4 linked regions of the Homo sapiens genome follow. The protein of the gene in region 3 purifies or fractionates together with the protein of the main gene of each other region. This does not show direct contact. Each region holds a gene or a part of one and is shown on either strand. Other genes may lie near its edges.

Region 1 (8,701 bases), on a different chromosome or scaffold from region 3:
ATGTCCCAAGTGCCCACGGAGGCTCTGCTGGGAGGACTCCCTCCAGCCAGGCCAGGGCTGGGCGTCAGTCACCCCATGCGGGGAACTGGGTCTCAGTTGGCCATGTCTGTTCTAAAAACAGAAGGACCACAACCGAGCCCAGTGTCTATTTTTAACGTCCCACTCACTGAAGAGGAATGTGTAATATTTCAGTAAAAGACGAGTGCAGGCTGCCAAAACTAACTGTTTGGCTTGGCAGCCTCGGACAGATCTAAATTGTTGAGACAAAGGCTACAGAAGCCTTGTCAGAAAAGATCATCATTTACTGGAGCAAATCCTAATACATTCACCAACCACTTAACATCTATTCTTCCCACCTCCCCTCCAAAGAGGGAAGAGGAGGAAGATGAGCAGGAGGATACTAAAAACCTTTAGAATCACAAATTTAGTAGAAGTGGCAGCTGACAGGGACAAACCCAGGGGCCCAAAGAGACGGGGCGTGAACGTAAGCAAACAAACATCCACCCCGTCAGCCTCTAAGGCAAAAAACACCAGCCAGGGAGAACTCAGCTGAGGCCCAACAGGAAATGGGTGCAGAGGTGCACCAGTCCCCAGGGTTGTCAAGGTTAAGGGACAAATAATTGTGTCTGCCATTCTGGGCTCATCATCTCACAGGGACAAAGACGCACCAACAAGGAATTCATCAGCATGATCCCCATTTTTCCTCTATCACAGTGCTTCCTAACGGTAACAGGGAAGAGGGTAACTCTGGAAGCTGCATAGGGCTTAAGAGCCCAGCACTGGGCTTAGGACTGCCTGGTTCACATCTTCACTTTATGCCATAGTTTCCTCATCTGTAAGGTGGGTTGCTGTGAGGATTACACTCTGCAATGCAGGGAGGGTGCTCAGCACAGACCCGGCACGTGGTGAGATTCCTGATTGGGACAACTGTTAAAAGAGGATTTGTGCTGAGTCTGGAGGGCAAGTGGGGCCTTCTCAGGTGGATAGGGGTCAGGGGACGGAGCAAAACACTGAGGTCCAAGAGAACATGGTCCCTGAGGTGGGTGAGAACAGAGCCTGTGGGATGGCAGTGCAGGGCTGAGGGCAGGGCTGAGCGAGTGACGCATCGTCCCACACACATGGAGAGCAGGGAAAGGCCAAGAGCAGGGGCACACAGGGGTCTGCTGTTGTCTCAGGAAGGGGTGAGGCACAGCCCAGAGGAAGGGCAGGAGGGAGGGAGGGGACTGCTGGGCAGAGATGGGGGTCTCGGTGAGAAGCACAGAGACCAAGTTGCGGGTGGGTGGATGCAGCCCCATGGTGTCCTGCCTCTCAGAAGCCCCGTGACTGGTAGTGAGGAGGAACCATTGAGCAGAGCCAATGAATCCTCTATGTCCAGGAACATCCTGCTGGAACAGCCCTTCTGTCCCACCATGGGCAGCAAAGCCCCGAAAGTCACAGATAGACCTGAGCTCCAATTGCTCTCCGCCCACTCGACCTGCCAGGCACCTGACCCCCTGCATCCCGGTGTCCTGACCCACAGCGTGAACAGGGACACCAGCCTCCCAAGGGTGAAAGAATTCAGAGTACACACACATCCCTATCATGGGCACAGCACAGAGGAAGGGCCTGTGCTCATAAATGCTTATGTATCTTCCCAAGGAGGCGTCTGGAAGGCTTCCCTACTCTGGGAATGATCTATATTAGCCCCCCAAGATCTTTTGATACCCATGAAATCAAGGAACCGATCCCCAGCCCAACCTACTTACTGCCCTAATAGGCAGCTGGACATCAGGTGAAGGAAGGGGGTAGCCAGAAAGGAGAAGCAGCCAGACAGCTTGGGGGAGGGGCAAGGCTGGGGACAGGGTCACAACGCCCAGCCAACCAAGAGCCCAGCCAACCAAGGCTGGGGATGGGGTCCCAAGAGCCCAGCCAACTTTGAAGCAGGGCCTGACCTGCCCCAAAGGCATTTTCTCCTCTGAATTCTCCAGCCCAGACCGCCTGGGGAATGTAAAGAATCCTCTCTCCACTCCCTGCCTCCTCCTGTCTGGAGCCTTCTAAGTGCTGAGTTTTTTCCTCTCGAAACAGCAGTAGCATGAGACAGGAATGCAACATTAGGTCCCCACTGGCCCCCTCTCCCCTGGCACGCCTGCCAAGCTGATAGATGAGTGGAAAAGATGACAATCACGACCACCCCCACCCTTCTGGGACAGGCAGGCCTCCCTTCTGTGATGGAAGAAGTCTGGGTAACAGAGGCACCACAGCCACGATCAGCCTCAGAGGAGGCAACCGAGGCAGGGTGGACAGGCTGGAAAACCAGGTGGGTGCACAGCTGCTACTGTGAGGCTGCAGCGAGCTCTCCTGATCAAAGCTGCGTTGCATGGGGGCAGCGACCACAGGTCCCAAGCACAACCGCAGCTCATTCTGTGGAGGTGGAATGGTCATGGGCTGGCCAAGAGAAAGGAACCCATACAGAGGTGCAGCAGTTGGGTGAGAAACCAAAAATCCCTGCGATTCTTAACTCTGCCCATGGCCATGACCTTGGGTCAGGCTTACCCTTGTGTAGGTAGATTCGTCAGGGGATGGAGAAGTCAGAGCTGGGCACTCTGCTGGCATCCACTAAATGTCTGTTGAACTGAATAGCTGAAGAAGGGCATGAGGTTACATCTACCCAACATGTGTACAAATTTGGGTTAAACGTATGGAGAAAATGACTGGAGTGACTCGGTGGCTATAGCTTTTGTGCTGAGTGAGATTTGCCACCAAACACAGCTGTCCACTCACTGAGCTGTTGTTCGAGCACAGAAGTGGCATATGCTCAACTCTGGGCCTGCAGCATAATGTCTGACATAAACGGGGTATACAATAAATATCTACTGGAAAAAAAAAATCAATGAATGATTTCAGAGACAGAAAATAGATGGTGGCTGCCATGGGCTAGTGAGAGTGGGGGGCAGTCATTCTTTAATGGGAACAGAGTTTCAGTCTTGCAAGATGAGTTCTGGAGGTGTGGATTAGCTTGACTTAATCATTCCACAATGTACACACGTATCAAAACATCTTGTTGTACATCATAAATATACACAATTTTTCATTTGTCAATTAAAAAGTAATAATTTTTAAAAAGAGTTCTCGAGATGGATGATGGTGATGTTTACACAAAAATGTGAATGTACTGAATGCCACCAGACTATACACATAAACATGATTAAGATGGAAAATTTTATGTTGTGTGTATTTTGCCACAATTAAAAATAAAACTTAAAAAAATCAATGAGTGATTAATTAAAAATGGAAAGAAATGGCCAAGGTTAACCAAGGAATGAATGACATCATACAATCTTAGATTTAAAATGGGTGCAAACTCTCTGCAGCTCTTCTATCAAGAGGTGCAATCTCTTTCCTCAAACATTGAATCTGGCCCAGCTTGTGCCTTGATTTGACCAGCAGAACAGAGCAGAAGTGATACTATGCAATTGCCCAGCCTAAGCTTCAAAAGAGTCCTCGTAGGCTTCCGTTCCCGCACACGGATCTCTCCACCTCTGTGTGAAGAAGTCCAGGCTGGCTTGCTGGAGACATGTGGCCCAGCTAACAGCCAGCACCAACCAGACACGTGAGCAAGGTTCTCAGAGCACCCAGCTCCCATCAGGCGATCAGATGACACATAAGTGATCCCAGGCAAGGCCAACGGAAGAACAGTCCAGCTGAGCCCTGCTCCGATCATTGACCCACACAATCATGAGCACATAAAATGCTGCTTCAAGCCATTAAGTTTGTTATGCATCTATAGAGAACTGATAGAGTGAGGAAGGCATCAGTTGAGAGGTAACAAGAAATGGGGTCCAAGTCTCCCTCCAGTCCTGCAATTGGAGATTAGGGGGTCCTACCTTCACTAAAGCCACCTCCTGTTTGTGGCTCTCCAATGAAGATCTTATAAGCCTTTAAGTCCTAAGAAGAGTTTGGCAAATCTCTTCAAGCAGGATGGCAGGGCACTCCAGGGTTAAGACAAAGGAGGAATGAGTGATGGGCTTTTTAAAACTCGGCACTGCCTAGTGAAGAAGGAGGAAGGGACAGCTCCCTTGCTCTCTGAGATACGCTCTATTTTGCCCCTAGACGTTTCTAATAGTAAACTATAGTAAGTCTGACCTCGAGAGATCAAACAGGAAGGTGAGGACACAGAGTGAGCCCAACAGTTTGTGAAACAAACTGGAACTCTAATCTAACAGGAGTATGAAATGAAACTGCCAACTCTGAGCTATGAAGACTACACTTTACTAAAAGGATGCAATTTCTGATGGGTGACACATATTAACCAGATTTTAGCAAGCTTCCTCAACTTACACTGGTTCCTAAGGGACCAGATATGCTGGCATCTGTGGACAATGAGCCTCTCAGCACAAGTGTGATTCAAGTGGACTGTACTTGCTCTCTTTTTTCTCGAGATCTTCGCCAGGCACCTGTTTCCCACTCTGGCCCCAGCAGCTGTGCTTGTATCAGTGGCCACTCCAGGAGCTGCACCACCTTGTCCCAGAATGTCATTTATGCCAAGTTAATAAAAGATGAAATGTCCTGTCCCACAAATAGCTGATTCAGGAACATTTAACAAGCTAAATTCTTAAGAGAACAGATGTTCTCGTGGGGAACATGATGAGCTTAGGTCTTAGGACACTTTAACTATTTTTTACTTTCCTTTGCCTTTATCACTATGATATCTTCAAATATAGACCCAGTCCAGGAAAATCTGCACTGCTTTCTGGGTCACCATACCCAAGGCTGCTCATTTCCAACACACAGAGAATCTATCTGGCTATTACCACTAGATATCATCTATAGGATTAGTACTTCTCACAATTACCCATTTTGGGAGCCCATAGAAGAGGAATATTGAGGGCCCTGGCTAAGAATCAATGTAATGATGCACTTTTTACCCACTTATGACTTCCTTTGCAATGTCAGTAGACACAGGATCCAGTGTTGGATTTAGAAGCTATTCCAATTGCAGGCGGCTCCTTAACATCTTGTGCTCTCTCCCAAGACAGTGCTGGTCACCCCTGCAACCCGTACCCGATCCCTAGGGAGACTACATTAATGCCATGCCTTCCCCAAAACCACCTCTTAACTCTAACACTCATCTCAATTGTCCCACGCTCCCACGCCCTGAGGCCAGCTCACTTCACCCAGGGCAATCGGCAATAGCTTACTAAATACTGTCTGTGTGCCAAGAACAGTGTCAGCTGTCCTTGTGTCCATCTGAACCCTTGGGCAATATTTCATTTTAAGACACAGTCGCCAACATGAGGGCCTCTCAGGGTCCTTCATGAACCACTCTGGCCCACCCTCCTCATAGGTCTCCTGCTGGGATGAGGGCTCTGATCAGCAATGATGTGGACAAGTGAAAAACCAAAAAACAAGTGCCTTGAGGTATCAGTATTTAAAAACCCTGATCTGCCCAGCAGTCCGAGCCCTATTCCAGGCTCACCACCGTCTCTGTCTGTAACACACTCTCATGACGTAAAGAACCCTCCAACACACATCACCAAATGTTCCAGAATTCAGAAAATCTTGGTCTTTTATTTCTGTCCCTTGGGTTAAAGACACCTGTCTTTTAGTCATTTTGCTTATGAATGTACTTCTACTGGGGCAACTTAGGAGATGGGGAAAATGAATTAAAATCAGTGAAGCTTGATGCTCTTAAGCAACTCTGGTGATGATGATGATAATGATGAGAAGAAGAATGACTGGGAGACAGAATTAGTGATCCACGTTGGGATGAATTAGCTAAATGGATGTCTATGTCTATCAATCAGCTCGTCACCTCCCATTTGCTCAAAGCTTTGTCTTATGGGGCATCTCCCATCAAGGTGCTAAGTGCTGGGAACCAGAGGTATGAGCAGAGACAGGGCCCCCAAGAGGGCTGGCCCCCTTAACCAAGCTGGCCGGGAGTCCTAGACAATGGGCATCATGGGGCGTCATTGGACCCTGGCAGAAAGCACTACTACTTTGAACTCACTATCACCAAACCACACACAATAGTTTCCTAATTCCTCACCATGCTCCTCCCATCCCCTCCTTTTCTACCAACAATGGACACATCCCCTGCAGCCTGGCAGTCAGGGGGCTGTCTTCTGAGTCCATCAAATGCTGAAAGAAAAATATACAACTACTCAGTTCTTTTTAAAAGAACAAATAGATCTAAATTTAATCCAACTTACCTTTGTTTCCCAGGAGAAAGGGGCAGAGTGCTCATCTTGCCAAGTTAGATCCTGAAATAAAAAATCGAGAATAAGTCTGAAATTCAAACCCAGACATACCCCATGCAAATATCCACCCAGGACCGTGGGGGAACCAAAACTTAGGAATAATCCCAACTCCTGGCTCTAAACAAGCCTGATGCTTTGACACTCTCAATATAATGCGCTGACCGTCTTGATCAGATTGCTCCCTCATCTTTCCCGCTGAGGCTGCCAGACACTCCCCTCCCCAGCCAAACAGACAACAGGGAATGCCGGTGAGGCCCCCCAATGGACTCAGACAGATGAGATGAGTAGGAGTGGATGAGGGCTTGATGGTCTCAGCAGAATCAGGCACAGACTCAGCCCTGAACAATGATTAGCTGTGTGGCCATGGGAAGATGACTCAGCCTTTTTGAGCCTCAGTTTTCTCATTTGTAAAAGCAAAATGATACTTCCCTTGCAGGGCTGTTGTAAGGATTAAATGAGGTAATCTGGGAAAAGAACGCCAAGCCATAATCTGCCAGTCAATGCCAATACAGGAGCTCCCCTCCTCCCCAACAGGCCTACCAGAGAGCTCGAGGGCATGGATCAGCAGAATCAATGAAGAAAAACGCCAATGTAATCCATGTGACTAATTATAACAAGAACTCTGAAATCACTCCCCACCCCCACCAAACAGAACAGGACAGAAAGAGCCCTATAGAACAATCACTACGAATTTGACCTTGGATCCAGTATGTTTTGTTCACTGGCCTGCACAAATGACTTGGGGAAGCCACCTTTCCTTATATCCCACCCTCTACCCGCAGTTATTCCTGTGCTAGCAAATGTCTCATCTGTGTCCAGCTTCGATTGGGTAACTTTTGTTTGTTTGTTGGTTTGTTTTAAGAGATGGGGTCCCAGTATGTTGGCCAGGCTGGACGCAAACTCCTGGGCTCAAGGGATGCTCCTGCCTTGGGTGTCCAGAGCAGCTGGGACTACAGGTGTGCACCATGTCTGACTGCTTCTACTGGGAGCATATTTTCAGAACAAAAAATCAGGACACATTGGGTGATACAGGCTAAAATGGGATAAAATATTTTAAACGGAGATCATATCCATATCTCCCCAAAACTCCAGGTGATTTATGTCCTTCCGTAAGTATCCCTGGATAACTGTCTTCTTCCCACCCATAGGTACACCGACTCTGCGCCCCTAAGTCAAGGGTCTGGCTTCCCTCTCCTCTACAGGGCAAACCAGTTCTGCCCACAGACCCTCTTCTTTCAGCTTTTGACAGAGCCTCCGCCACCCTAGCTTAGCCTCAGACACTGGGGGCAAATGCCAGGGCCCACGCAGGGGGAGTGCCTCACCAACACATAAGTGTACACATTCAGCCTTCCAGACCCCGAGTGTGCGTTCTCTGTGCAGACGCCTCCTAACATGAACAGCCAGTGGGAGGTCAGTCTTTGAACTCAAATAACGAAGGCATGCCAGGGTCTGGGCAGCTGAAGGCCTATTCCCAAGAAGCGGGGACAGGGAAGGAAGTGTGTGATGACTCCCCAGCACAGCCCAAGCACGGCCAACCCTAGATGACAGGGGCAACACAGCAGGGCCTTTGTCCGCTTCTCTATCCCAAGTGCCCGGAAGACTCAGCGACTGCCCGTAGCGGACGCTTACTCACTCTTTGAGAATATGTGAATAAACAAACTCTGCACAAGCCCGGATCCTTTCACAGGTTGATTTTCCCCCACAATCACCCGCTCCCAACACTCACACTCCCCCAAGACTTCCCAATGTGGGGGCACAGGCTCTTCACAGCTCTTGGCCCCAGGAGGAAGAGCCAGCCATCAACAGGGTAGAGATCTGGTTCTGTGTCCTGATGGCTGTGCTGTGTGCCTTGGCTCTGTGCAGTAGAGGCTGGTACATTTGTGGCACAAATACTTCACATATGCTGGGGATAAAGAGCAAGGAAAACCCAGAGAGGAGACTGTCAAAAGGCCAGAATCCAGGTCTTTATTTTCCCAGGACAGCATATAAAAGGACTAAATATATTTATATCAGGAAAAAAAACACCACTAACAAAGATACTAGGTATAAATATTAAGAATTACAAAAGTGAGGGAAAAGCCCTACAAACTGGGTTAAGCTGCATTAAAGTGTATCAAACAGTCAGTTCTGAGAACCACATAGTGTGTGCAACTAATGACCATGTGCACAGTAAGATGACCCCCATCCTCAGAGTGTTACAGTCACTGTCCTGTAATGGTATTTGCTTATGATCCTGACTTCTGAACTGATTGGTATGCAGTGCCTCATGGCTGTCAAGCAAAACCTTTAAAAATGAGAGGAACCACTGCCTTTTTGTTTGGAATTTCAGTTAAACTCAAGTCACTTCCCAATGCACAAACTTCATTCCTCCAAAAATGGAAATGGATGCCTGGAGGAATGTGAGTTACCAAGGCTTTGTGATTAGATGTCTCCTAGCAGAGGCAGAGGGCCAGCCTTCAGCTCTA
Region 2 (3,328 bases), on a different chromosome or scaffold from region 3:
CCACTTCCAGTAAGCAGGCAGGAGGCAAGTGAAAGAGAGGGGACAAGCTGCCCGCTATGCACACTTCTGGGAAGTGATACCCCATTCCACTTACACCCCAGGAGCCTGTATTGGCACTTGGCTACATCTAGCTACAGTGGAAGCCAGGAAGTACTGTCTTAATTTTTTTTTTTTTTTGAGACAGGGTCTTGATTGTTGCCCAGGCTGGAGTGGGTTGGCACAACCATAGCTCACTGCAACCTCAACCTCCTGGGTTCAAGCGATCCTCCCACGTCAGCCTCCCAGGGTGCTAGGTAGATTCCAGGTGTGTGCCCCCATGCCTGGCCACTGTTTTTATTCTGAGTGTCTCTGTGCCTCGCTAAAAACCATGGGTTCTAGTACCACAGAAGGAGGAAGAATGGATGTGAAGGAATAAGGATCTTATTCCTGTCTCTGTCACAAGGATCTTAGTGGGGGTCACATGAGGGCCACAAAGACAAAAATCCTCCAGTATACACAAGTTGAACATATTGCCATTTATTTTGTTGAGGTTAAACATATAATTTTAACGTATTCAAACTTATTAATGGACATTTAAAAAGCTGAAAAAGTGAAGAGCTGTACCATGTCGTGGATTATTTTAATGTCATAAAATTCAAAGGAATGCCACATTTCAATAAAACATTTTAAGAAGTTGACATACTTTTATTAGAATCATGCAAATATTAGAGAAAGGTTAATGGCTTTTTTTTTAGTAGACATTACTGAGAAAACTGGCTCATTATATCACAAAAAGTGAAACTTGGATCTCATATATAAAGGTGTATTTCACTGAATTTTTTTTTTTTTTTTTGAGACAGAGTTTCCACTCTTGTCGCCCAGGCTGGAGTGCAATGGCGCGATCTTGGCTCACTGCAACCTCTGCCTCCTGGGTTCAAGCGATTCTCCTGCCTCAGCCTCCCGAAGTAACTGGGATTACAGGCGCCTGCCACCACACCTAGCTCATTTTTTTTTTTTTTTTTTTTTGTATTTTCAGTAGAGACAAGGTTTCAGTCTTGAATTCCTAACCTCCGGTGATCCACCTGCCTCAGCCTCCCAAAGTTCTGGGATTACAGGCATGAGAAACCATGCCCAGCCGATTTCTCTCATTTTTTTTTTTTTTTTTTTTTAAGAGACAAGGTCTCGCTGTGTTGCCCAGGCTGGTCTCAAACTCCTGGGCTCAAGCAATCCTCCTGCCTTGGCCTCCTGAGTACAAAAGTGCATCTCAAATAGTTTTAAAATGATGTGCAATATTTAGCAACCAGTACAGCCCAGCATCAACCAATTAGAAGAAGTGTCTGACTGTTGAGAACAGATGCAGCCAAGGTGTCACCCCGGTGTGTACCAGCTGGACTTCAGCACTGTGTAGTGTTCTCAATATGAAAGGAAAAGCTGAACAGCTAACAGGAGAAGATGTAAAATATCTTAACAACTCTATTAAATAAGCAATCAAAAAGCAACCAACTGCAGAACAAGATAATTCATACTGTCTACATTAAAATTAAAATTTTCTTTTTTTTTTGAGACAAAGTCTCTCTGTCACTCAGGCTGATGTGCAGTGGCACTGTCTCTGTTCACTGCAGCCTCCACCTCCCGGGTTCAAGTGATTCTCCTGCCTCTGCCTCCTGAGTAGCTGGGATTACAAGCATGCGCCACTGCACCCAGCTAATTTTTGTATTTTTAGTAGAGATGGGATTTCACCAAGTTGGTCAGGGTGGTCTTGAACTCCTGGCCTCAAGTGATCCACCCACCCCGGCCACCGAAAGTGCTGGGATTACAGACCTGAGCCATCACGCCTAGCCAAAATTAAGAATTTCTGTTCAGTGACGGATACCCCTAGATACAAAGAAAATTTCAATTTTTTCCCCTTTAAATCTTTTTTTTGAGTGGAGCCTTGCTCTGTCGCCAGGCTGGAGTGCAGTGGTGGAACCTTGGCTCACTGCAATCTCCGCCTCCTGGGTTTAAGCGATTCCCCTGCCTCAGCCTCCAGAGTAGCTGGGACTACAGGTGTGCGCCACCATGCCCAGCTAATTTTTTGTATTTTAGTAGAGACGGGGTTTCACCATGTTGGCCAGGAGGGTCTCAATCTCCTGCCCTCATGATCTGCCCGCCTTGGCCTCCCAAAGCCCCCTTTTTAATTTTTTTTTGTAGAGACGAGGTCTCGCTATGTTGCCCAGGCTAGTCTCGAACTCCTGGGCTGCAGCGATCCTTCTGCCTGGGCCTCCCAAAGTGCTGGGATTACCAGTGAACCTCCATACCCAGCCCAAATATGCATTCTTGGAATTATCTGCAATTGCCCAAGAATGTACAAGCAACTCCTGAGAATAAACCAAAAAAGATAAGAAACTCCATGAGAAAATGGGCAATGCACAGGAAGGGAAACCAGAAAGGCTAAGTGAAAAAATTCCCCAAATTAATGCTGATCAGATGAATGTATGTTAAAGCACTGCACCACTATCTACCCATGAGACTGGCAAAAATTAGGTAGTCTGGCAATACAAGTGCTGGCAAGGATAAGGAGAAAAGGGCGGCCTCAAGTAGGAGGGTCAGTCACCGTTCTAAAGAAAATCTGGAAAACCAAAGAGAAACTGACCTCTGTGACCTATAGGCCCATCCTGGGTACACATGCCACACAAGCACAGAAGGGAACACACGAAAGGATGTTTATCGTGGCCTGTATCCGGTGCCAAGGGGTCAGGGGCACCCAGGTGTCCCCCACTTTAGGCAATGTGTGTAAACTGCAATTGACATTGTGGAGTGCCACATGGCAGGTCAAAGCAATACTGCATTTCTAGAAGAGTCAATGGGGCTAGATCTTAGCACACATTGAGTGAAAACAGCATAAGACCTATTGCACAATAGCACTATGTACAGTAAAAGCACATATTCACACATGAAACGTGGTATTTTACAAATACATTCATATTCAAAGACATGGGTGCTTATGGGAGAGGATGGTGTAAAGAAAGGGAAAAAAGCCATAAAACCAGAGAATCTTTGCATGGGACTGTATTCCTGAGATCCCAAACCAAAGGGATGAATGTGCTGTTATGCCTTAAATGTGTGCACCAGGAAATGCAAACTAGAAAGGGTGGCTCTGAAGGGTCCTCAGGTGAGGAAGACCCCCAGGGCTGAGAATCCACCACCTTCATCCTTCAAAAGAGTACCTCAGTTGTCTGCTTACGCTTCAGCCAGCATGTGTGAGCTTGGTCATTTCCTGCAAGCCAGGCAACCACACCAGTGTATAAGCCTCAAGCAAATGTCACTCCCAAGCCCCAAATGGGACTAAGGCCTCTGCTGGGCTAGGCGT
Region 3 (8,701 bases):
GATTGTTGACCATTGATTCACAGCTTCCCAGGAGACATCATCTTTCTACCCTCCAGGTGGGGACCCTGGTCTCCAATCTGTCCAGCCACATCAAGGGGGCTAGGATTTAGACTTCCCAGGTGTCTCTCCAGGTCCCCTGCCCCGTTCACATTATGTGTCTGTGGAGACCGTGAGAGAAAAGACCTTTAGATACCCTATAACCCGGCCCCTTTGTGATACAGCCGGAGCCACTGAGGCTCAGAGAATGGGGATAGGGCAAGAGCTAATTAATGGTAGAACTAGGACTGAACCTCAGGCTCCCAAGAATTATATCATGACTTGCACCTCCTTGTAAAATAGGTTTTACCTTTAAAAGAGATCAAAATATTGGCCCTACCATGGTCCAGGTTTCCAAAGACCAATGCGTAAGAGCAAGAGACATCACCCACACCAGCAATACAGACTGAATGTGTTCAGAGTGACACAGAGGACAGCCTTGTTCATGCCAAGCTCTTGAAACTGTGTTCAAATTTAGCTTTTACCTTGACACCAAGGCCTAACAGAGGTGAAATCCCAAAGCGAGATCCCAAGAATCCTTTCCTTTATAAATCTGAGAATGTGGAAGAGTTAGACCCATGACTTTTGGCCTCTTCAGCCACATCAAGGACATAGAGAACAGAGTATGGAGAGGGAGAGTATTTCATGAAGACATTTCTTTGAAGAGGGCCACTGCTGTTATCCCCAAGATGCTACCTCCTTCACCACCATCCAAGGAAGGGGTTTCTTTGGGCCTTCCCCAAGAGTTTTGACTCATGTTCCCTGAAGTTGGGAGGGAGGTAGGGTAGACTGGGGCCCTACTTGGAACCAAGCAAAGCCCTGGGAGCAAAAGAAGAACACTGCTGTGTGGGGCCCTGCCAGCACTCCTAGAGTTCGTTGGCACAAGAGATGGCATGAGGGTTGCCCATGGGTCAGATATAAGCCTCATGGAGGAACTGGGGTGCAGTTTTCACAGTCCTGTGCAAGGGGAGCTGTTTCCACCTGAGCGAAAAGTGGGAACATCCACACCATAAGTCTACAGGCAGTGGACTGCCAGGGAACCAGGGACAGATGGAAGAGCTGGAAGCAGCCAGCCAGCTGGAACAAAAATCTTGCATGGCCAGTGAGCTGGGTTTTGTAGTGAGAGGCACCCAGCAAGGAACTTCTGAAGATTCCAGGAACACACTGACGTCTTTACCCATATGCCAAAAAGGCAAGAGAGCAGGGAGCCTGTTTACTAAATTATCTTATCAAGTAAGACCTTTTCCCTCTTTCCTTCCTGTCCCCAGGCTGCCTCTTCAGAGGGTCGGACTGGTTTGTAGAAAGGAGGGGTGGGAGATAGAAGGGGTTACAGGGTAAATAGAACAGAGAAAAGAAGGCAAATATCACACACAGACATATGTGCACACATATGCACATACACACACGCACACACACACACACACACACACCCTTCCCATTCCAGTTTCCTGGCCCCAGCTGGTGGAGGAGAAAGATTTAAGGCTAAATCATGTCTAGAATGTCATGTCATGATTTTAGTCCTCCTAGTTGTAGATTTCAGACTATGTTGCACTTGAAAGTGATCTTAGGACTCCTGTTACCCAAGAAGGGTTAAAAACTTCATTGGACCTCAGGAGTTTTTATCCTCTGGCAGTGGAAAAGATTGCCTACTAAATAGTGTAATGAATTGGTAGGAAATAAAACTAAAGTCACCTTTTGATCACTTTCCCAGTTGCACTTGTCCAACATACCAATTAGGATTTTAACTACATCAATATCTGACTATGCAAATGAAAACAGTAGCAAGAATAGCTGGAAAATAATTGTGTACTTGGCTTTGGAATGCAACATAATGAATCATTGACAGCCAATTTATCTCCTTAAGGGCAAGTGGCTCAAACTCATACTGAAAGTTAAGTAAAAGCTTAAAATTAAAAATTAGTATGTTAATGTAAGGCCTTATTATTAATTGATGTAGATTTAAATGTTTCTCTGTGTTTCTCTATCCAAGATCAATAAAATATGGTAAACCAGAAGGCCTTAGGCTCTGATAACCTTATCCAGCAACCTCATGATCAAATGGTCAGGCTCTATGTCAGTGGTCAGCAAACTTTCTATAAAGGGCCAGAGTAAATATTTTAGGTTTTACATACCATGCATAGTCTCTGTCACTTATACTTGTGTGTGTGTGTTGTTTGAAATGTAAAAATTATTAGTTCATGGGCCATACACAATAAGCTGGAGGACTGGAGTCAGCCCATGCACCCATAGTTTGCTGACCCTTGTTCTACGTTAATGTGTTTAAATTCCCCATCTATCCAAGCCATGCAGTGGATCGTGGAGAGTTGAGAACATGCCCAATACACCTGTGTTGGCTGTCCAAGAGAGTAATCACTAGCCACGTGTCATGTGGCTATTGAAATTTAAATGAAACAACCTTTAAGATTCAGTTCCTTGGTCATACTAGCCGTGTGTCAAGTACTCCATAGCCACATTTGGCTGCCATGTTGAACAGTAGAGAAATGCACTTTTTTCATTAGCTTAGAGAGTTCTGTTGGACCATGCTGCCCAAGACTCATTTCGGGATGACTGGGTTGCGAAAGGGAGCTGAGGTTTCGCTGGTGAGACCAGAGTGGGAGAGTGATGAGGAAGGTGGAGGAAGACAGGGCAAAGGCTGGCCACTGCTCACATGTTGACGATGTTCTTGACATTGAAGTTCTCCAAGGGAGCCAGGTCAGGGTCCACACCCCGCTCATCCTGGAGGACAATCTGCTGGAGGATGCGGTCCAGGAGCTGCCACTGCTGGAAGTAGCCACCGTTCCGTTTGTCTGAGGGATGACAGGTATCATATCTTTCCTGAGTCCTGAAGTCCCCCTTGGGCCCCACCCTAGAGTTGCTGCCTGGGGTCTGGCTGGTGAGGCATGCCCTTCTCCACCTATGGTAAGCTCCCAGTCTAGAAGAAGAGGCAATGCCATTGCTGATAATGGCAACTCACTGATTCAGTCATCTCTTGATTATCGGCAACTAGACTTCTACGGATGTGTCAACCACCTCCCCAACATATTTCTCTACTCCCTGAAATACTTTCTGGCTGCCTTTCTTCCTTGTTTGGACCCTGGGCATACTATGCCCAGGAAGTGCAGATTGCTTTTTACATTATCTATAAAAACCACCTGCTCCAAAATATTACATGCTGAATAATGAAGTCTCCAGGGAAGTTTTTTTTAAAAAAGATTTTAGGATTATCCACATTATTACTCTACAGAGAAAGATGAAGGGAAACTGATTGCAGGTGTGCACTGAGAGTCAAAATGGGTTAGAGAAGTGCTTAATGGAACTCGAGAAAATTTCTTGTGGAAGTGACCTTGAACTATGAAGGTAAAGGCATAGTGTGTTGTGTGTGATCTCATAGAGTCTCACTCTCATCCCCTCTAATGATAGTCATCTGGCTGGACATGGACTTCCTTTTTATGTAATAACCACAAACTCTCTTTCCTTGGTCCTTGATCCCTAGCACTTTATTGACCATCATAAAAAGCCAACAAGTTCAATCCTGACATCAAAGCAAACCACAATGCCTACAAGGTAGAATATCGAGTCTGCAAAGCCCCATTTTGGGGCAGAGTAGAAGAACCCATTCACATTGCCCATGGAACAGGAAACACAGGAATCCCTGGGAGCACAAGAAGTCAGGTTTCCCAGAGATTTCTATGCCCTTCATGAAGACCTGCTGCAATGAGCTTTGGAGAACTGATAGCTTCTTAATTCAGGTCACTGCATCTATCCTGTCCACAAGTCTACTGACACATGCATTGCAAAGTTGTATCATTTACCATCTACTTTTCACCCAGCAAAATCGTGTAAAGCCAGGTCACTAGCTCAAAGAGGCAGAACATGTTTTATCTCAACCCTTGACCCCGCAGAAACCAAAATTCTTTCTATATGTAAATATCTCGCTGAGCCTCAGGTTCACTCACTATTCAAATGGACATAATAATGTGTATTCCTTAGGTCATTCTAAGGTTCAGAGATGATGTGCTAAAGGACCTCACATCACGCCTGGCCCAGAGTTGGCACACAATAAGTCACAGTTGTCATCACTGTCACTATGATTGCTGACACCGCCAACATCAACCATTATGGTGGGCCACACTGGTTTTCAAAATATTCTCTTTTGTGAAGAGCTTAAGTACCAAGGGGTACAGTTAAAGCTCATTTCAAATTGCATTCTGGAGTGGCTATTAGCAATTATGTACAATTTATTCAATCACTGTGCACACCTGGATCTTAAGAACTTAGCCATCTGCTCCCATAGATGCTGACATTTGGTATTTGTAGGCAGAAGCAGGGGCAAGAGTGCAAGAGTGGAAGCCAACAAGGACTAGATGAAGGAGTTGATAAAACCTTAAGGAAAAAAACAACCATGTTCATTCCACATCTGTGCTACTCCCCCAAGCACAAAACTTTTTGGAACTCCCCAGCATGACTGATCTCTCCCCCGTCATGAGCTGAAAGCTGAGCTATTTAATTTTGCAATGATCAAGCTACCGTTTTTGGACTAGGATGTTGGAGTTGCTCAGGGCCAAGTCCCCAGCTCCTTCCCCAGATGACAGTGAAGACCTGACCCCAAGGAGGGAAGGAAAAGCAGGGGCCTCCGTCATGGGGCCTGCCCTCCCAAAAGCAAGTGCACAGGGAGACATGGTCAGACTCCCCAAACCAGGGAGGTCCCAAAGTCTTGTCTAAACCTGCCCCAAGTCAAGGTTCAGGCCAGTCGAGGGAAGCAGCAAGTGCAGGGTACTTACAGGGCATCTGCAGGCAGTGGTGCAGCACAGAGAGCAGGCAGGGGTAGGCCTCCGTGTACTTCAGCTTCTTGTGGATCAACTCAAACATCTGGGAAGCACTCTTGGTGTCGATGTGGACCTGGGAGAGAAGAGGGCACAGTGATCAGTGGGTAGGCAGCAGAGGAAGTCAGCAGGAGAGAGAAGACCCTGCTTCCATCCACTATGCCCTGTCTCATAGGAAAGGTTTTCTTCCCCTGCCTCTGGCCCAGGCTTAAAAAGAGAAAGACAAAAGGAACAGGGAGATAGTCAATTTTATAAACTAGAGTTTCTCAGTCTCAGCACTATTGGCATCTTGGGTCAGATAATTACTCATTGTGGGGGCTGCCCTGTGCTTTGTAGGTTGTGTATCAGCACCCCAGCCTCTCCTTAGCAGATGCCAGTGGCACCCCCTCACACAAGTCAAAATGTCCCCAGACATTGCAAATGTCCCCAGGGGGAGAGGAGAGCAAAATCATCCCTGCTTGAGAGCTACTGATCCAAACTAGGGAAGGGAGCAGGGGCATAGAGGATTCAAAGTAGCAGGTGGAATGTGGCGCAGGTCCACCACCTGGGTTCAAACCCCAGATCTACGCTTTAGTTGTGTGATGACAGGCAAGCTGCTTATCCCCTCTAACCTCTGTTTCTGTATCTATAAATCCAGGGCTTTTGTGAAAATATAATGGATGCACTCAGTGACTGTAAAGCACCACCCAAAAGTAGCTTTCTATTTGGATGGGGATTTTATAACACAATAAAGCAGAGTTGTGTGCTTTCAGGGTTGCCGAGGTTAAAATGAAAATACAATTTAGTTTGCTAAGCATGATCTGGTTAGGGATGGGGAGAGGGGACTCAGGAAGTTGCTGGAAGGCAGGGGAAAGTCAGCCCAGGAAAGGTATTTGAGACTAATCACATGCAATAACTTGCTCCCTTTCCTTTGGGGGTTTCAGTCTCCTCCTAGGCCGATGCCTTCCCGGGGGAGGCTTCCACAGCCTGCATACTACCAAGGCTCTGGAAGTGAGATGTGATGGTTCGTTTTAGGTGTCAACTTGACTGGATCAAGGGATACTCAGATAGCTGGTAAAGAATTCTTTCTGGGTATGTCTGTGAGGGTGTTTCCCAAAGAGACTGGCATTTGAATCAGAGGACTGGGTAAGGAAGATCCCACACCAGCTCCACCACAGCACAGGGCCTGGAGAAATGGCTGTGGGGCCACCTAGAACCCTACTACCATACTACGATCACTCCACCCTGTGGGCTCCTCACCATCCAATCAGCTTAGGGTCTGGAGAGAACAAAAAGGCCAAGGAAAGGTGAATTTTCTGTCTACCTCTTTTGGAGCCAGGACATCCTTCTTTTCCTGCCCTTGGACATCAGAACAGCAGGCTCTCCAGCTTTTGGATTCCAGAACTTGCTCCAGTGGCCCCTTATGTTCTCAGGCCCTTGGCCTTGGACTGAGCCATGCTACTGGCTTCCCTGTTTCTCCATGCAATAACTCCGACCTGTCATGGGACTTCTCAGTCTCCATAGTTGCGTGAGCCAATTCGCCTAATAAATGCCCTCTCATCTGTCTATCTCTATATATGTATCCTATTGGTTGTGTTTCTATGAAGAACTATGACTGATCACAGGACCTGGCCATGGGGGTGCCCACCAGGGAACCAGCCCACACCAGCCCTGCCACAACACGGGGTCTAGAAAAGTGGCTGTGGGGCCACCAAGAACCCTACTACCCCATTGCAATCGCTCCACCCTGCTGGCTCCTCACCATGTCAAACCTCCTGGCTAGCTCCAGGTCATCCTCATTCCGCACCATCTCGAAGAAGTCTAAATGTCTAGACAGAATGGGGAGACAGAGAGAGTAGACATTACAGCCAGGACACACCCTTGGTTGAGGGTTACAGCCCCTTCGAGCCCCCCACTGGCTAAATCTGAAAGCTTCATTCAAGCAAAATGAAGGCAAAATGGGAAAGAAGCCGCTGTTTGTAGGACACCCATTGTCTGCCCTTTATAAGATCCCATGACCTTCCTTCAGGGAGGCCAATCCAGGGTCCCTTCACCTTAGAATGGGCTTCTATACTTCGGCACTACTGACATTTTGGGCTCGCTTATCTTTGGTTGTGGGAGGCTGATCTGTGAGGATGTTTAGCAGCATCCCCAGCCTCCACCCACTAGATGCCAGCAGCACCCCCTAGTGTGACAACCAAGAATGTAATGTCTGCAGGCATCGCCCAATGTCTCTCAGTTGAGGACATCAGCCCTGGTCTATTTTCCCCAGTACTTTCATAGGGTCTCCAAGTCAACCCTCAAAACTAATCTCTCCCTCATTTTCTATCCTCATGCACACATCCACTTGTTCCACCTCAAAAGGATCCATCCTCTGTCCCTTAAAACCTAGTGTAATAAAATAGCCTAAACTAATGGGACAGAACCAGAGGGGCCTCACTGGTATCACATGGGAACATAATTGTGCCCTTGGATCAACAAGGGCGTTATAGCAAGCATTTTGGGTGGGACATTTCTTTGTTGAGCAGGAAGGTACTGCGGGACATTTAGCATTCCTGGCCCCCAACAACCAATACCAGTATTGCCCACCATCAACCAGTTTGAAAACCAAAGAGTACCCTCATATATTTCCACATGCCCCCCAGGGGGAAGTACTGCAATGGTTGAGGGCTACTGGGTTCACCTGTCTATAACATCAGAGATGAGACAAGCAGGTCAGCAAAGAGGACAGGCAAGGGCACCCCTTCCCCCCACAGAGCTGATTCTGAATCTGCGCTGGGAATGGCAGCTGGTCTCCAGAGGGAAGGGCAGCCTTCACAAAGGTCCCAACTATCCCCATCTGAGGCACTGTCCCCACAGGTTTGCAATGGAGACGGGTGCTTGGAACTTACTTGTCCAGGATGGCATTTTCATGTTGCCGGAGCTTGTCAATCACAGGCTGTATACCCAGCATCAGGAATTCATACCGTAGATGTAGGCGGAACTCCAGATTATCCTGGGGGTCACCAAGGGAGGGCCAGACTCATTGGCAGATCTCAGTTTCCACAACATCCCCAGTGGAGCCCTCATCACCACCCTAGCCACAGACCCAACACATCTCCCACAGCTAACTCACCTGGAGCTGCTTCCAATCCCAGAGTTCCAAGAAAGAATGGAGACCTTATTTCTTAGTTTAAAGCAAACCCACTGCCCAGCTTCTTTTAGGTCTCCTGCCCCACTTCCTTCAAGCCCCTTGCCAGTTCTAGCCTTCAGCACCAAAGAGCAGTGTTGTAGAGTGACATGGAGCACAAGCTTTGGAATCAGACAGATCTTGGATCTGGTTTTGTGACCTTGGGAAAACTTTTAGTTTCCCCATTTGTGAAATGATCATAGCATAACTAATCTACAGGGATGACACTTGTTATAATTACCTGATGAGGTGTGGTTACCAGCTAATCAGAGCACATGCCAGCCATGAAAAGGTGGTACCAACAAAGGTGATGTTAGCATCTTAGGGGCAGATTATTCCCCCAACCGGCCTTCCCTAACCCAGGGCATAAAGATAAATTGTTTTTAAAAAAAAAAAAAAAAAAAAAAAAAAAGTATGCTGGCGGAAAAGAGGGGAAAGTAAAGATCATTAAATTGCTCCCTTTGCCCCCTCTGTCCTTCAAGTTAACCTTGACCAGGGCATCTGATTGCCTTAGAATTTGGAACGTTCACCTGCTCTTCAAGTTCTTCTATTGTTGCTTTTTTTGTTGTTTCTTTGAGATGGAGTTTTGCTCTTGTCCCCTAGGCTAGAGTGCAATGATGGTGCAATCTTGGCTCACTGCAACCTCCGCCTCCCAGGTTCAAGTGATTCTCCTGCCTCAGCCTCCCAAGTAGCT
Region 4 (8,701 bases), about 68 Mb from region 3:
CACTACATGTTTCAGAAGCCATTCCTCAATCACTTCCTATTCCATTGTTTTATTTTCTTATATCTATTACCATCTGAAAATATTTATTTATTTATTTTTAGTCTGTCTTCCTCACTAAAATATAAGCCACATGAGGACAAGGACTTAGGCTTTTTTTGTTCACTATTCAGTATTTAGGACAGTATTTAGGACAGTCTAGCATATAATGGGCTTAATAAACATGTATTAATTGAATGGTCAAAAAAAATTTTTTTTTCTCCATTTTATAGCCTGCCTTTACATAGGGTGCCACTAGATGGCAATCATGCCTTTTTAGGCACTATGATGCTGGAGTTTTGGGGCATTAGAGGAAACTGAGAAATTATTGGCTCAAAGTAGAGAACTTGAGGTCAGAATTAATGAGCTTAAGAATTGAGAATGTGTGAATTATCACAGCAGCTCAGAGGGAACTATAAGAACCAATAATATTCGAGATGGTAAAAAGTACTTAAAATGAAATGTACAGTGTGGCTTTTTGTTTGTTTTTACTGCTCCATTCCTATTGCCTAAAACAGTACCTGGTTTCTAGTAGGCTCTCAATAAATAATAAATATTTTGTAAATGAATAAAACAGGGCCTAACTATATTCCTCTTCATATAAGTTCTTTGTTTGAATGTACAAATGGTTGACATTCTAGAATACTTTGGTCAGTATTATGGACTTAGAATATGAAATTTCTGTATGGATATAAATTTCTACAATGACTGTATTTTGAACCAGGTTTTTTTCCTGGCAGAAGAAGTTGTCCTCAACTATCAGTAGGTTTTTAGAGGTATGTATTGAGTCTAAATTCTAGATTCCTGTTTAGTTATTAGCAAAATAATTATAAGAAATTGAAGACAAGTTAAATATAAAATAGAAAGATATTGTTTGCTCTTGTTCCAGATGAACATCACTCGAAAACTATGGAGTCGAACTTTCAACTGTTCAGTCCCTTGCAGTGACACAGTGCCTGTAATTGCTGTTTCTGTGTTCATTCTCTTTCTACCTGTTGTCTTCTACCTTAGTAGCTTTCTTCACTCAGAGCAAAAGAAACGCAAACTCATTCTGCGTAAGTTTTTTACAATTATTTATTTTATAGATAAAAGCCTGTATTTTAAAAATTTAGGCCTGTTTTAGAAATGATAGCTACTCTGAGAACTCAAAGTAGATTAGCCTAAAAGGACTCTCTGCTTTAAGTTTTACAATCATGCTTACTAGTGAAAGAGATCTGTGAAAATTTTATAAGTGTGGACAATAAAAAGTTAAAACAGGGCTAGGTGCAGTGGCTCATGCCTGTAATCCCAGCACTTTGGGAGGATGAGGTGGGCGGATCACGAGGTCAGGAGATCGAGACCATCCTGGCTAACACGGTGAAACCCCATCTCTACTAAAAATGCAAAAAATTAGCCGGGCATGATGGCGCATGCCTGTAGTTCCAGCTACTCGGGAGGCTGAGGCAGGAGAATCATTTGAACTTGGGAGGCGGAGGTTGCAGTGAACCGAGATCGCACCACTGCACGCCAGCCTGGGAGACAGAGTGAGACTGTCTCAAAAAAAAAAAAAAAAAAAAAAGTTAAAACACAGTGTCTTTCAGATGATTAAATTGAGAAAGCTAGATTACCCCTGGAATAAGGTTGGCAACAACAGAAGAATAACAACAGAGGCTTTGCACTCCTAACATGGCAATAGCAGGGAGATACAGACAGCTCTTAGACCCATCGGAGTCATGGTAGAACCACCTAAGTGTGGCAGGCAGGAAGAAACTATAGCTGACATAACAGACAGTTTGTTTGTGAACAAATTGGAATCGTAGTTCCAAGGAGATTACTTGATATAATAGTATATGCTCAATACATATTAATTCCCTTTCTTTCTCCCTATGAAATAGGCCAGAGCAAAAGAAGCACTAACTAGAGATCCCATCCAGCTAAGGAAGAGTGGCTTCTAAGTCACGTGGCTTTCTTGTTTATTATCAGAATGAAAGTACAGGCTTATGCCTTAATAATTTTAGTTTTTAAAAAAGAGAACTGTTTAGGGGAAAAGGTTAATTTTCTTTTCTCTCAAATACTATTTGTAGTCTAGGAATGTCTGATATAAAAATTCTTTTCCCTATAAATTTCGATCACTACTTCATCTAACTTCACTTCTAATATATCTAATTTTTTTAAAAAAAGGTTACCTGTAGATCAGTTTGAACTGAATTTGTAATGTTTTGTCACCTTAAAATGCTAGCTACTAGAGGGGAGAGTCTTTGTCATGGGTGTATTTATTAAAGGTTTTTTGAAGGCTGCCAGCATTCTGTAAATATGCAGTAGCTCAGGTCCTTAAAGCACTTACTTAGAATAATAGCAAAATATTGTGGGCACCTCACCATTGAGAAACTATTTTTCAGAGCTTGGTATACTTTTAAAGTTTAGCATCTTATTTGCCTTGCTAATCTATTTAACTTTATGGAAAGTATTTACTGCTTCTGATCAGGATTTTTTGTTTGCTGTCAAAGTAAAAGTCACTACCAGTGTCACTATTTGCTATGGAAGCCACAAACCTTGTAGTCATTTCTTAATTATTTTCTTTCTTTTATTTTTCCATTCCCACATTCCCCTCTCATCCCCTTTTAATTCATTAGCAAGTATGCTGCCAGTTCTGCTTAGTCCGTCTCTCTCCCTCCACTGGTAAACCCTAGCCCAAACCATCTTCATCTCTTATCTGTACTAACGCAAGAGCCCCTTAACTGGTATCCCTCCTTCCATTTCTTGATCTACTAAAATCCATACGCCACATAGTGGCTAGAATAATTTTTTAAACACAAATTCACCATGTTTCTCTACTAACTTGGAATGCTTAATGTGTTCCCATTGTACCTAGAATAAATCCAAACTTACTTTCCAGGGTCTGCTCTCCAAGCTGTACATGACCTGGCCCATAGCCACCTTTCTAAACTCGTCACATCCATTCTCCTCATTGCTCATGGTGCTGTGGACAGTCTGGTTCCTTTCTGTTCTTCTCCACTACCAAGCTCATTCACACTGCCCCTTTTCCAAGGCCCTTCCCTCTTTACTTACCTGGCTTCTTGCAAGCCAGGTCTTAGCTCTAAAGTTACTTGCTCAAAGAGACCTTTTATGACTCCCCAGTCTAAGAATACACCTCTCCATTTGTTCTTCTGTGCCGTCTTTCTTTAATGGCACTTAATCACTTAAACTAATTTAAATTAAATAATTGGTTATTTAAATCATCTTTTTCATTTATTCTCTACTTTATTTGTTTGTCTTCCCTGCCTGAAGGGAGGAGCTAACTGCATTAGAGGTGTTGAAATTCACCGTTAGATGATCCCTGGGCTAGAATTTTAAAGGATGTGGGGATTTATCAGGTAGGGAATATAAAGGCAAGGAAGATGTAGGTGTATGTACTCATTCGTATTTAACTTGTCCAGTTTATTAAGTCATTTGAATTTTGTCAGAAGCTAGATCACTTCTAGTAGTTTTTAACAAAGTAATTCTCAAAAACCCAAACTATTGATTTGGTTTGCCTCCCAAATCTACTGAAGGCTTAAGAAGTAGATTTTAGTTTAGGCCAATGTTTTTAGTTTAAGTTTTCCCTTTATTTTAAGCTGAAGCAGTACACTCGTCCAGGAAGTCATGTTGTGATTTTCCACTTACAGTTGATAGAAACCAGAGACAGGCCGGGCGCGGTGGCTCACGCCTGTAATCCCAGCACTTTGGGAGGCCGAGGCAGGTGGATCATGAGGTCAGGAGATTGAGACCATCCTGGCTAACACGGTGAAACCCCATCTCTACTAAAAATACAAAAAAAAAATTAGCCGGGCGTGGTGGCAGACGCCTGTAGTCCCAGCTACTCGGGAGGCTGAGGCAGGAAAATCGCTTGAACCCAGGAGGCAGAGGTTGCAGTGAGCTGAGATCGCGCCACTGCACTCCAGCCTGGGCGACAGAGTGAGACTCCGTCTCAAAAAAAAAAAAGAAAAAAAAGAAACCAGAGACATTGGTAGGCCAGGCACGGTGGCTCACGCCTGTAATCCCAGCACTTTGGGAGGCCGGGGCAGACGGATCATGAGGTCAGGAGATCAAGACCGTCCTGGCTAACACGGTGAAATCCTGTCTCTACTAAAAATACCAAAAAAAAAAAAAAAAAAAAAAAATTAGCTGGGCGTGGTGGTGGGCACCTGTAGTCCCAGCTACTTGGGAGGCTGAGGCAGGAGAATGGTGTGAACCCAGGAGGCGGAGCTTGCAGTGAGCCAAGTTCGAGCCATTGCACTCCAGCCTGGGTGACAAAGCCGAGAGTCCGTCTCAAAAAAAATAAATAAAATAAAATAAAAAAAGAAACCAGAAACACTGGTTCTCATCCTTGGCTACACATCAGAATTATCTGCAGAGCTTTAAAAAAGTACAGGTACTAGGGTCCCATTGCAGAGCTTCTAAATCATAACCCCTACCCAAGTTTTGTGAAGCTCTGAAGTAGGGAGACTCTTAGTTACTCAGTATAAAATACTCTCACTATGGGCATGATTGTTTTTCATTTCTAGAACATGAGAAACATTCATGTTTAACTATAAGTACAAAACATATTACCAAGCCAAATAGCCATGATTTGTTTTATTAACCCTAATGACTCAGTCCCATTAGCATCAAATCAGAATTGATGGTAACGTATTTTGTTAGCAGCCATATGTGTTTGTGTGTTTATATAACATAAAACTCACTTTTCTTTGAGGATCATTAAAATTTTTTTTTTACAATACAGAGTTCCATAATAATATACAACTCACTTTTCTTTGAGGGTCATTAAAATGTTTTTGTTTTTTTTTTTTCCCATTACAGAGTTCTTTCACTGATTTTTTTTTCATCTGAAAATAGAAGCAGTTTTCTTTCTTTCTTTCCAATATGTATAGCTTTCCTTTTCTTTCTCTTGCCTTGTTGCGCTGGTGATAAATTAGTGGCATGATGTCAAGCAAGACCAGGTATTTTCGTCTTATTCCAGATCTTAGGGGGAAAAATCATTCAGTCTTTCACAGTTAAGCATAATGATTGCTATAGAATCTTTGTACATGCTCTTTATCAGGTTGGGGAAGTTTTCACTGAATTCTTTTAAGAGAAATTCAGATTTGGATTTCTAACTTAGACTTTTAGATGTATAATTTTGTTATTCTACCTTATAGCACTTTCATTGTCTAAGTACATTTATTTCACGTACATTACATATTTAAGATTGTGATGTTCAAGAAGATATAAATGATGTTGTTTTATTTGTACTGCTTCTAACAAAGTCATGTGCAATTTCTAACAAAGTTATGTGTTTTTAAGGTTGGTAGAAAAAAGTTTTAATTAGGTTTTAATTCTTATAAGGCTGGAACTGTTAGGATTCAAACATAGAATTAATAGATAAATACTATAGATTACATAAAAATAGTAAATAATCATGTTTGATAATTAAATTTAAATTAAAATATAATTCTTTTGATTTATCTAGCCAAACGTCTCAAGTCCAGTACCAGTTTTGCAAATATTCAGGAAAATTCAAACTGAGACCTACAAAATGGAGAATTGACATATCACGTGAATGAATGGTGGAAGACACAACTTGGTTTCAGAAAGAAGATAAACTGTGATTTGACAAGTCAAGCTCTTAAGAAATACAAGGACTTCAGATCCATTTTTAAATAAGAATTTTCGATTTTTCTTTCCTTTTCCACTTCTTTCTAACAGATTTGGATATTTTTAATTTCCAGGCATAGCAATGTTATCTATTTTAATGTGTATTTGTCACAATAACAGAACATGCAAGAACAATCATTATTTTATTTTATAGGCATTTGATTACTATTCTAGACTTCTGGTATCTTCTTACTAACATAAATATCTCAAGTAGAAAAGTTTTTGAAAACTAACATTTAAAAATTAATCAGTTACAGTAAAGACTTTGAAAAAGAAATGTACTTGTTAGGAAGTAGCTTAATTACCCCCCATTGCAGTATTATTGTTATATATATAGTTAATATGTTGTACATCACAATAATATATAATTCAGTCTCTAGTTTCCCTAGAGTCATTTTTGAAACCACTGATTGCAAACCTCCCTGACAATTTTTAAAAGTAGTAAGCCACATTACATTTATCTTTGTAAAAAGATTTATGGTAACTGGTTTCTTACTTGACTTTTATAAATAGTATTTTACATCTTATTTTTGCCTTTATTTCATAAGTAATTTAAAAATCACTGGATTGCTTTATTATATTCAGGGCAATATGGATTATTTTTATACCAAGGATTTGCATCGTGAATTACATTAAGTTATTTGGCAATTTATAATTTATTACTACTTTAAATCAAATGTAGCATTATCACACTGTATTTAAATTGTCATTTTTTAAAGGAATATTTTCTTCTTAAGATATATAGAGGATTTTGGAGAAGAGAGACAGGAGGGGTAAAACCAGCTTAAGGTTCAGCGAGCAGAAAGGGACCTGAGAGGATGCTCACTGTAAGACTGTTGGACAGTGGTGTGTATTGAGGGGATGAATCGGAACGATAGTCTCATGCAGAAAATAGTGAGATTAAGATCATCCTTATTGTTTCTAAATTATTTCAATCAGATGAAAGTGATACGATTGAAATGAAATCACATAGTTCGTGCTCAGAAATTCTATTTTGGTATGTTTGTATTAGCCTTTAGAAAAAACACTCCGTTTCAGAATTGTTCACAGTTTTATTTCTTAGGTTTTTAGAGTTCAGGATTTCATTTATTAATTTCTTCTTGCTTTTTTGGTGGAAATAGGCTTTGTTGTAAACATTAAGAATATAAAATCTCCTCTATATAGAAACAAGAATTTTGTTAAAAAGAGAATTTGAATCCCTTCCTATACTATAAAATGCTCTATAGGGAGACAAAGTGTTTCTTTTTTCTTTTATGTTTACTGTTTATGTGGAGTGAAATATAAGGCTCTTGGATGTATAACATACTCAAAAGCTGTTACACTTTCTCTGATCTGCTGTGATCCACTGAAAATGTGCTGGGGTTTGTTCTGCTGTCACTGTTTATGCTGCTGGAACTTAGCACTGTCTTGATTTGAAGCATATGATTGAGAGCCATTTGAAGCAATCTTCATTAATGCAGATAAAACAAGTTTACATGTGCAGAGTTAGAAAATGACATGTTCAATTCTGTAAGTGGTGACTTTTTGAGCACCTTTCAGTATTATGTATTTGTAAAAACCATTGTTTTTGGATATAAAGCTAATAAGCACTTTAAAAAGGAAAAGGCAGCCTTTACTATTTTTTCTGGTTGAGTCATTGCTCTTTAGACCTAGCATCAGCAATAGATTTCAAAGATAAGTATTAAGCGCTACCCTAAAGTGTGTAAGTTTTTCATTTTGTCATATTGAAAAATGATTTGCATAGTACTGAATGTTGACACACAGCTTATATGTATTTACAAGAATATCTTTAAGTGTTTTTTTGACACATTAAAATAAAGGAAATAAGGAAATTGTAAGCTTTATTTGGATTTTTAAATACATTTTTAAAATTTCAGATGTAATTTAACATCACATTTGTTTTTCAGGTATTGAGTTTAGATGCCTACTTTTATGAGTACCATCAGCTGGACACAGTGTCTCATACCTGTATTTGCAGCACTTTGGGAGGCTGAAGCAGATCGCTGGAGCTTATGAGTTCGAGACCAGCCTGGACAACATAGTGAAACACTGTCTCTGCAAAAAATACAAAAATTAGCTGGGTATGGTGGTAAGTGCCTGTAGTCCTAGCTACTTGGGAGGCTGAGATGGGAGGATGTCTTGAGCCCGGGAGGTGGAGGTTGCAATGAGCCAAGATTGTACCACTGCATTCCAACCTGGGCGACAGAGCCAGACCTTGTCTCAAAAAAAAAAAAAAAAAAAGAAAAAAGAAAGTACTGTCTGTCTTAAATTTTGCTGCAAATAAAAATGTACTTTGGATTATTTATTGTTGAACTTGAGAGATAGAAATAACATCAGATATATTTTTTCTTTTTTTTTTATAATTAATTTTTTTTTTTTTTTTTTTTGTAGAGACAGTGTCTCACTATGTTGCCCAAGCTGGTCTTGAACTCCTGAGTTCAAGAGATCCTCCTGCCTTAGCCTCCCAAAGTGCTGGGATTACAAGCATAAGCACCACACCTGGCTGAACATCAGATATTTTAAAGTGTAGCCCAGAGTCTAGTTGGTAAATGTTACTTATATTGGGACTAGTATTTTCTAATGTTTCTGGGATATGCTCCCTATAAAATGAAATGTTTTCCTGGAACAATGCTAATTAGGATTGCATTCCTGGCCAAAGACATGACATCAAATAAGTAATAGACATCACCAGCAATGAATTTTGAAAAGCAAAAAATACTATTAACCTATATAACCATTTAAAATTTAAAAAATTATGTTCCAAGTACCTCTATTTTCTGAGCTAGAAGAAACCTTAGAGGCCATCTGATGATAGATTCCCAGAGCTGGATGGATCCCTAGGGACTACCTAATCTGACTTTCTGTCCACTGCATGGATTCTTCTAAAAAGTATGTCACTTATTTCCCTACCTTATTAAGACTAAATAAGTGGAACATCATAGAGCTCTTTATTTATAACAGTCATTCTTTGATAGTCAACTCTTAAATGGAGACTTGAGATGCTTAAATATTG

What was found.
Region 1: the proteins of DAAM2 (region 3) and C1orf198 purify together in Homo sapiens (co-immunoprecipitation; one large-scale study listed by IntAct). This does not show direct contact.
Region 2: the proteins of DAAM2 (region 3) and NFATC2IP purify together in Homo sapiens (affinity purification with mass spectrometry; one large-scale study listed by BioGRID and IntAct). This does not show direct contact.
Region 4: the proteins of DAAM2 (region 3) and OSTM1 purify together in Homo sapiens (co-immunoprecipitation; one large-scale study listed by IntAct). This does not show direct contact.

What each region holds. Positions count from the first base shown.
Region 1 is NC_000001.11:230,849,480-230,858,180, forward strand, and holds part of C1orf198 (uncharacterized protein C1orf198), read right to left. Parts: intron 6,529-8,701; exon of another isoform or gene 6,399-6,528; intron 6,240-6,398; coding exon 6,189-6,239; intron 1-6,188.
Region 2 is NC_000016.10:28,964,265-28,967,592, reverse strand, and holds the end of NFATC2IP (NFATC2-interacting protein), read right to left. Parts: 3' UTR 501-3,328; downstream 1-500. UniProt on the Homo sapiens protein: In T-helper 2 (Th2) cells, regulates the magnitude of NFAT-driven transcription of a specific subset of cytokine genes, including IL3, IL4, IL5 and IL13, but not IL2.
Region 3 is NC_000006.12:39,869,472-39,878,172, reverse strand, and holds part of DAAM2 (disheveled-associated activator of morphogenesis 2), read right to left. Parts: intron 7,834-8,701; coding exon 7,730-7,833; intron 6,668-7,729; coding exon 6,601-6,667; intron 4,936-6,600; coding exon 4,818-4,935; intron 2,844-4,817; coding exon 2,705-2,843; intron 1-2,704. UniProt on the Homo sapiens protein: Key regulator of the Wnt signaling pathway, which is required for various processes during development, such as dorsal patterning, determination of left/right symmetry or myelination in the central nervous system.
Region 4 is NC_000006.12:108,041,643-108,050,343, reverse strand, and holds part of OSTM1 (osteopetrosis-associated transmembrane protein 1 precursor), read left to right. Parts: intron 1-760; coding exon of another isoform or gene 761-812; intron 813-925; coding exon 926-1,091; intron 1,092-5,503; coding exon 5,504-5,559; 3' UTR 5,560-8,701. UniProt on the Homo sapiens protein: Required for osteoclast and melanocyte maturation and function.